2 linked regions of the Homo sapiens genome follow. The protein of the gene in region 1 purifies or fractionates together with the protein of each later gene. This does not show direct contact. Each region holds a gene or a part of one and is shown on either strand. Other genes may lie near its edges.

Region 1 (3,811 bases):
ACGCCGCCCCACAGGGGAGAGCCGACCTCTGATGGCCTGCTGGAGCCGAGCCACGCCAAGGTGGTATGTCCAGAGAGGACTGGTGAGGTGGCCTCTGAGAGTGACATATGGGACCGGTGCAGGAACACGGTCCTCTAAGCGCAGCCACGGAGCAGCACTTTGCCCTGCAGGGCCCAGAAGGCAGGCCTGATGGAAACTCACGCGTGGGAGACCCTGTCTCCACTAGGCAAGTGACCTGAGAGGGCAAGCAGTGTGCCCCCACCATGTTACCTGCCTCCCCAACAGGGCAGGTGCCTGTGGAGGGGCTCACTTGTCCTACACCCTCCACCTGTCCCATCACTGAGTGACATGTGACTGCCTGGGCTAGGGCATCCTCCCAGGTACCCCCCAGTGAGACAGGGCAGAGCAGGACAGGCTGGTCCCTGAGCCCACTGACACCTCGGGGCTGGAAAGGCCTTGGCCTCTCAACTAGGGGATGCTGACCTCCCTCAGGGGTATGATGAGGTGGCAAGCGTCCTCCTCCTTGCTGGCGAAGCAGATGTAGTTGTTGGAGATGAACATCTGGCCAGGGATGTGCAGCTTGTTGAACGGCGTCCACAGGGTGCAGCTTGTGTGGCCGTCTAGCCGCTCATCCCTGGGCAGCCGGAACGTGGCTCGGTAGCACTCATTCTTGGCTCGGGCGTCCAGGTCTCTGGGGAAACAAGGTAGGAGGACAGGAGGAAAGGGGACAAGGTCAGGACCAGCACACTCTCAAGGAAGCCTTGGGGCCTCCCCAGGCCTGTTTCCACATCAGATTCAGGATCCCTGGGGTGGTCCCTTGAGCAAGTCATGCTCAGGGACCTCAGAGTTCAATAAAAGATGCATGCTGAGTGAGCAGGCAGAAGGTGAGACAGTCACATAACCAGCGGAGAAGTGGCCAGCAAGCAATGTGTCCTGAGACTGCTTTGAAAAGGACACACCTAGATGCTGGCCTGGGCAATGTGCAACCCATCCCTCGGTACTGATGGGCAAGCAGAGCCCAGAGCACCTGCCCTGGATCCCACTCAGATGGAGGGCCCCGGGCAGCTCTTCCACCCTGGGCAGGCCTAACCCCAGGTTTCACCTTGAAACCTAGGTGAGGAGCTCCCCACAGGGAGGTGTGGAGCTTAAACTAAAGCATGCGGCTGCTAACAGAAATGCACACCTGTGTATCTGATGGCTGTGACAGTGGCCTGGCCCAGGCCCTCACCCCTTTGGTGGCTCTGTCCACATAAACTCTCCCAGCCCCAAAGGGAGCCTCCTGCCTGCCCTGGGCCGCAGTGGCCTGACCAGGGCCTGACTGCATTCTCACCGGCAGTGCCAGGAGCAGTCATGTTCCATCTCTGCTCGTGTTCTTTCCAAAAGGTCCAACAAGCCAACCTGTCACTTGCATCCCAAGGACAACATGCTTGCACAATTTTCTGGTCCTGGAGGTGGACCCCAGAGTTTGGGCCTGGACCACAGTCTGTGGGTGCAATGCAGGAAATGGCCTGGCTGGAATGAGGTCGCTCAACACAAGGGTGTGAATCTGGCTGTGGTCAGGCTGGCTGTGGGACCCAGGGAACCTCAGAGATCTTGTCCAGCCTCTGGAGTTTCCCATAAGCTACAACCTAGGAACCCAAACGTTAAGTAGCCCGGGAGGGCTGGCTGCTATGATGTGTTCCTGCCTATCGGTCCCCTGGACAGGGCAGCAGGGAACTCAGACCCACACATGGCCCATCTCCTTGGCTGGCTTCAGACCCAGAGGTCTGCTTCCACGTCAAACTCAGGACCCCTGGGGGTCCCATGGCTGTGAGAGGCCTCTGGCCAAGGAGTCTCAGGGTATACAGGAGAGCTGTCAATCACGGTGGGACGGAGGCCGTGCACTTGAGCCCAGATTTACCAAAGCCTTTCTGGGGGTGTCAGAACACCCTGGCTGAGGTGGCTACATCCTGGCTCCACTGCTCACTAACCGAGGGACTTCAGGCAAGTTACTTAACCTCTCTGTGCCTCAGCTTCCTTGTCTGATACCTAGGGATGGTAAGAGCCCCTTCCCATCATAGGGCCAAGAGGAATAAAGTGTGAAGAGCTTCCTCCCCATTAGTGGTATCCTCAGGACATCACTGCTATCTCCTGCTGCCTCTCCACACGGGACTGCAATGATCTGTTTACCTGGCTTCCTTCCCAAGTGGGGAGCCCATGAGGGGTGAATGTGGACACCTTCTCCAGGTCTACACACTTGGACCAGGCAGGTCCCAGCCAAGGTCAGCGAACCTGGCTCACATGAGCCCACCCCAGCCCTGGAGGGCAACGCACCGCTTCAGGGCTGAGATGTTCCTGTGTGGCCGGATGGGCCTAGGCAGGGCCTTGTCCTCCAGGAAGCCCTCGCTGTCCAGCAGCTGCCGCATGGCCAGGTTGGCCAACTGCTCCATGAGCTTGAAGGTCTCGCCGATGTTGAGGAACATGGAGAAGAAGAGCTCCTGGTCGCGGGTGTCCACACGGATGCTCTCGGGGAAGAGCAGGGTGGCGTTCTTCTCCAGACGCGTTATGTCCACCCACTGCACCACGAGGCTCACTGTGCCCACAGAGATAGACACACCGCAAGTTAGGGCCTGGCAGGGCGAGGCTCCTGATGCCCATCTGTACCCCAGACCCATCCCAGGGAACTGCTCTCTGGGGGCAGCACTTCCTGTGTGCCCAGGCCTGTCTGGGCTGTGTCACGCCCTCCATGTGGAGGGACCAGGCCACTGAGGTGTCCACTGCCTTCCAGACCAACCACACACGGTGAGTGTCTCCCCCACCAGTGGCTGAAGGGGAAAGGAACGAACGTGCGGAGGTGAACCACCGAGACCCACCCAGCAGCTCCCCCAAGTGGGAGCGCACGGAGGTGTGAACAGTCACAGCACAGCGCGGCCAACACAGAACAGGACACAGCCCCTGCTGACGGGAGGTGACTGGCCACCTGGTCGTGACAGGTAAGCGGCAAGGGCAGGAGGGGGCACAGGGAGGCTGTGGGCTGAGGGAGGCAAGGAGGGAGGAGGGCTTGGTGGGCTTGGGGATGGCTAAGACCCTGGGGCTCTTTCTGGAGCTGCTGGGAAATCAGGCTCGCATCCTGTGGCCGGGATGTCTGTAGGGAGGAACCTGCAGCAGATGAGGGCTGTGGCACGCACCCAAGGCATTGCATGACATGGAATCACCAGGAATTTGGGACAGACGTGTGCCTGAATACGCCAGTTCAGCAGAAGAGGGCAGGGCAGGCACGCGGAGTCACCATGTAGAGAACCCTACTAGCGAGTGGGGGGCATGGTAAAAGTCGGCTGGGAGCAGGTGTACGCCTGGCCAAGGCCGGACAGTCCCATCTTGGGCCGCTAAGGTGGCATTTGGGTTTCAGGGAGACCCCTCTGGTGGCCATGTGGGGATGGAGTATCTGGGGGCCGAAGGCAGGGAGGGGCTGAGGGTGTGGGGGCTGGGGCACACTGAGGGGCGGGCTCACCTTCCTTCCCCAGCAGGAAGGAGTAGAAGCACAGGTGGTTGACCGTCAGGTACAGCCAGCCCTGCCGGGGCACGCGGCCCTTCCAGTAGCTGCAGGAGTAGTAATTCACCAGCTTCTCGCCCTCAGGCATCCCAAACTGCTTCCGCATCTTCAGCTCAGCCTCCTTGAACTTCCCGGGGTCCTCGTCTCCCTGGGGCTGCAGGTTCTTGTTCTCTTCTGCGATGATTCCCTGGAGGAAGGCAAGAGGACAAGGGCTTGCCCTGCACAGTCCCGGACAGGTCAAAGGGTGGAGCAGAGAGGCCCAGGGAACCCAGGACTCAT
Region 2 (3,811 bases), on another chromosome or scaffold:
CTCTATCACCCAGTCTGGAGTGCAGTGGCACAATCTCGGCTCATTGCAACCTCCGCCTCCCGGCTTCAAGTGATTCTCCTGCTTCAGCCTCCTGAGTAGCTGGGATTACAGGCATCTGCCACCATGCCCCGGCTAGTTTTTTTGGTATTTTTAGTAGAGATGGGGTTTCACCACGCTGGCCAGGCTGGTCTCGAACTCCTGACCTCAGATGATCTGCTCGCTTTGGCCTCCCAAAGTGCTGGGATGAGCCACAGTGTGAGCCCCTTCAGGTGTGAGCCACCACGCCAGGCCCCTTCATTAATTTTGAAGCACCTGACTCTACCATTTCTTTGGCCCTCATTCATTCATTCCAGTTAGCTCAGTTGCTCCTAGATGAGAGGCTCTCTTGCTCTAAATCTCCACTGCTCTCCCCCAGAGGACAAATAGGTACTGAGTACCTACAGTACTCATACTTCTATGGAGTCATACTTCCATACTACACTCCACACTAGGCACTGGAGTTACAGTAAAGGAGGAGAAGACAAAATCTGTGTGCCTCACAGAACTTGTAGGGCAGTGCCAAGGGATGGATAACAATTAACTGAATAATTAAACTCAATAAATGTGACCTATCAACTGTGTTAACTGTTACAAAGGAAAGCATATCACAGGGAGAAAGGGACCTCATCAGGGAAGTCAAGGAAGGCTCAGAAGGAGGGACAAGTTCTTCCTTGGGTAACCGGCCTTCTGTCTCTATATGCCTGAGTTCCTGGAGGAACTTACTCACCCTCTTTGTGGTGTCAGCACTTGGCATAACAAGTGAAGCAGTCCTTAATTGATCTGCTACAGGGAGGGGAGAATTTGGAGCAGGAAAGCTCTCATCTAGGAACAACTGAGCCAGAGTCAGAACACCTTGCGAGACAGCTCTGGGTATGGATTTGAGCCCTGCCACTCATGAGCTCTGAGCATATTCCTTAACGTCTGTGCCTTGGGTTCCTCATCTATAAACTAGGACTAACCGTTCACCTCACAGAGTGGCTGTGAAGATTACAGGATAAAGTGTATATAAAAAGCCCTATAGGCTCAGAGCAATGGCTTGCACCTGTGATTCCAGCACTTTGGGAGGTCAAGGCAGGAGGATCACTGGAGCCCAGGAGTTTGAGACCAGCCTGGGCAACACTGCATGACCTTGTCTCTAAAAATAATTTAAAAATTAGCCAGGTATGGTGGCGCATGTCTGTAGTCTCAACTACTCGGGAGGCTGAAATGAGCCATGATCACACCACTGTACTGTAGCCCAGTCCACAAAGCAAGGTCCCACCCCACAAAAAAAAAAAAAAAAAAAAAAAAAGCCCTAAAGCCCTACACAGGCCTAGTACATGAAAGCACCCCCAAAATGGCAACCACTATCACCATTACCATTATTTTTATTATTATTATTAGAAGACTCAAAGGGGCCAAGCATGGTGGCTCACGCCTGTAATCCCAGCACTTTGGGAAGCTGAGGCAGGTGGATCACTTGAGGTTAGGAGTTCAAGACCAGCCTGGCCAACATGGCAAAACCTCGTCTCTACTAAAAATACAAAAATTAGCCAGGAATGATTGCAAGTGCCTATAATCCAGCTACTCAAGAGGCTGAGGCATGAGGACTGCTTGAACTCAGGAGGTGGTGGTTGCAGTGAGCCAAGATCGTGCCACTGCACTGCAGCCTAGTTGACACAGGGAGACTGTCTCAAAAAAAAAAGAAGAGTCAGAGGCAAGAAATGAGCTCTGAGAGTTGTGTATCAGTCCATCAAATTTGAGCCAACTCACTACTGACCCAGCCAAATGGACTCCTGAGATCTGAATCTTCTGTGATTTAGAAAGGAGATGAGCCCAGCTCATCTGGTTCCCCCAAAGCAACTGGGAAGGCTACCCCAAAGCAAGTGGGAATGCTCTTGCCAGTTGATGGAACTACCCAAAATTTGCTCTGCCTGAGGCCTGGCTTCCTATTCTGATTGACCCCAGGCTTTGCAGCCCCAGGAATCTGAGGCAAAAGAGAGGCTGCTAAGGTCCAAGGACATTAGGGCCACCTCCTGATTTACCTGGGCACTTCTCTATGAAAGGAAACACAAAGACAAGCCTCATCTTTCCAAGTCTGGCCTCCCTCCTCTTCTTTCTCCTGCCTCCATCTATGCACTTCTGGTTGGGGGCAAGAGGGTAGTGCAAGGTGTGGTAGGCAGAATAAAGGCTCCCAAAGATGTCCAAGTGTTAATCCTTAGAACCTGTGAATATGTCAAGTTGCATGGAAAAGGGGAATTAGGGCAGCAAATGGGACTAAGGTTGCTAATCAGCTGACTTTAAAGCAGGGAGATTATCCTGGGTTACCTGGGTGGGCCCGATGTGATCACAAAGGCCCTTTAAACACAGAAAAGGGAGGCAGGAGAGTCAGCATCAGAGTGATGTCATGTGAGAAAGACTCGACGAGCCACTGCTGGTTTTGAAGCTGCAGGAAGGGGCCACAAGCCAAGGAATGCAGGAGGCCTCCAGAAGCTAGAAAAGGCAAAGACCAAGTTCTCTCCTCAAGCCCCTAGAAAGGAATTCAGGCCTGCTGACAGCTTAATTTTAGCCCAGTGAGATCCATTTTGGACTCCTGACCTCCAGAACTATAAGATAATAAATTTGTGTTTTTTTAGGCCACTAAGTTTTTGGTAATTTGTTATAGAAACAATAGAAAACTAATATACAGGTCTTTCAAGTTGTTCTCCCGGGAGCCTTAGGGCTTTAGAGGCAATGCCTCATGTCAGAGGGAGGATTAGCCGTGCTACTATCTTTTACATATTGGGCTTTAATAAAAGAATGCTTATTGTTTTGTGTGAGTGTTTTTGGTTTTTGTCTGTTTGGTAGAGGCAGGATCTCATTTTATTGCTAAGGCTGGTCTCAAACTCCTGGCCTCAAGAGATCCTCCCATCTTGGCCTCCCAAAGTGTTGGGATTACCACCACTTAAAATAGTTTTTATAAACCACTGATGTAGGCCAGGTGCGGTGGCCCACGCCTGTAATCCCAGCACTTTGGGAGGCTGAAGTGGGCGGATCACCTGAGGTCATGGGTTTGAGACCAGCCTGGCCAACATGGTGAAACCCCATCTCTACTAAAAATAAAAAAGTAGCTGGGTGTGGTGGCACACGCCTATAGTCCCAGCTACTTGGGAGGCTGAGGCAGGAGAATCACTTGAACCTGGGAGGCAGAGGTTGCAATGAGCCGAGACTGTGCCACTGCACTCCAGCCTGGGTGACAGAGTGAGACTCCATCTCAAAAAAAAAAAAAAAAAGAAAACACCACTGGTGTAGTAGAGAGAGTTTAGGGTTGGGCAGAGTTTGACTCAGTCTGTGTTTACCAGCTATATGACCTCCCCATGCTTTACTCAACCTCCCTGAGGTTGGGGGCCTCATCTGTAAAAGGGGGATAACCACTTCACAGGGTTGATGTGAGAATTAAATGGGGCAAATGGGGTACGACAGATCCTGGCACAGGAGAAGCAGTCAGGAAATGTTAGCTGCCCTTCCAGCCTCCTTCCTTCCAGGCAGTCTTTTTTTACTTTATTTTATTTTTTTTTTTGAGGCAGAGTCTCACTCTTGTCACCCAGGCTAGAGTGCAGTGGCATGATCTCGTCTCACTGTAACCTCCGCCTCCTGGGTTCAAGCGATTCTCCTGCCTCAGCCTCCCAAGTAGCTGAGATTACAGGCATGTGCCACCACACCTGGCTAATTTTTGTATTTTTTAGTAGAGACAGGGTTTCACCATGTTGGCCAGGCTGGTCTTGAACTCCTGACCTCAGGTGATCCACCTGCC

The links.
Region 2: the proteins of TBC1D9B (region 1) and PACC1 purify together in Homo sapiens (co-immunoprecipitation; one large-scale study listed by IntAct). This does not show direct contact.

What each region holds. Positions count from the first base shown.
Region 1 is NC_000005.10:179,890,896-179,894,706, forward strand, and holds part of TBC1D9B (TBC1 domain family member 9B), read right to left. Parts: intron 3,720-3,811; coding exon 3,491-3,719; intron 2,573-3,490; coding exon 2,314-2,572; intron 692-2,313; coding exon 484-691; intron 1-483. UniProt on the Homo sapiens protein: May act as a GTPase-activating protein for Rab family protein(s).
Region 2 is NC_000001.11:212,404,801-212,408,611, forward strand, and holds part of PACC1 (proton-activated chloride channel), read right to left. Parts: intron 1-3,811. UniProt on the Homo sapiens protein: Chloride channel gated by pH that facilitates the entry of chloride ions into cells upon exposure to extracellular acidic pH. Involved in acidosis-induced cell death by mediating chloride influx and subsequent cell swelling.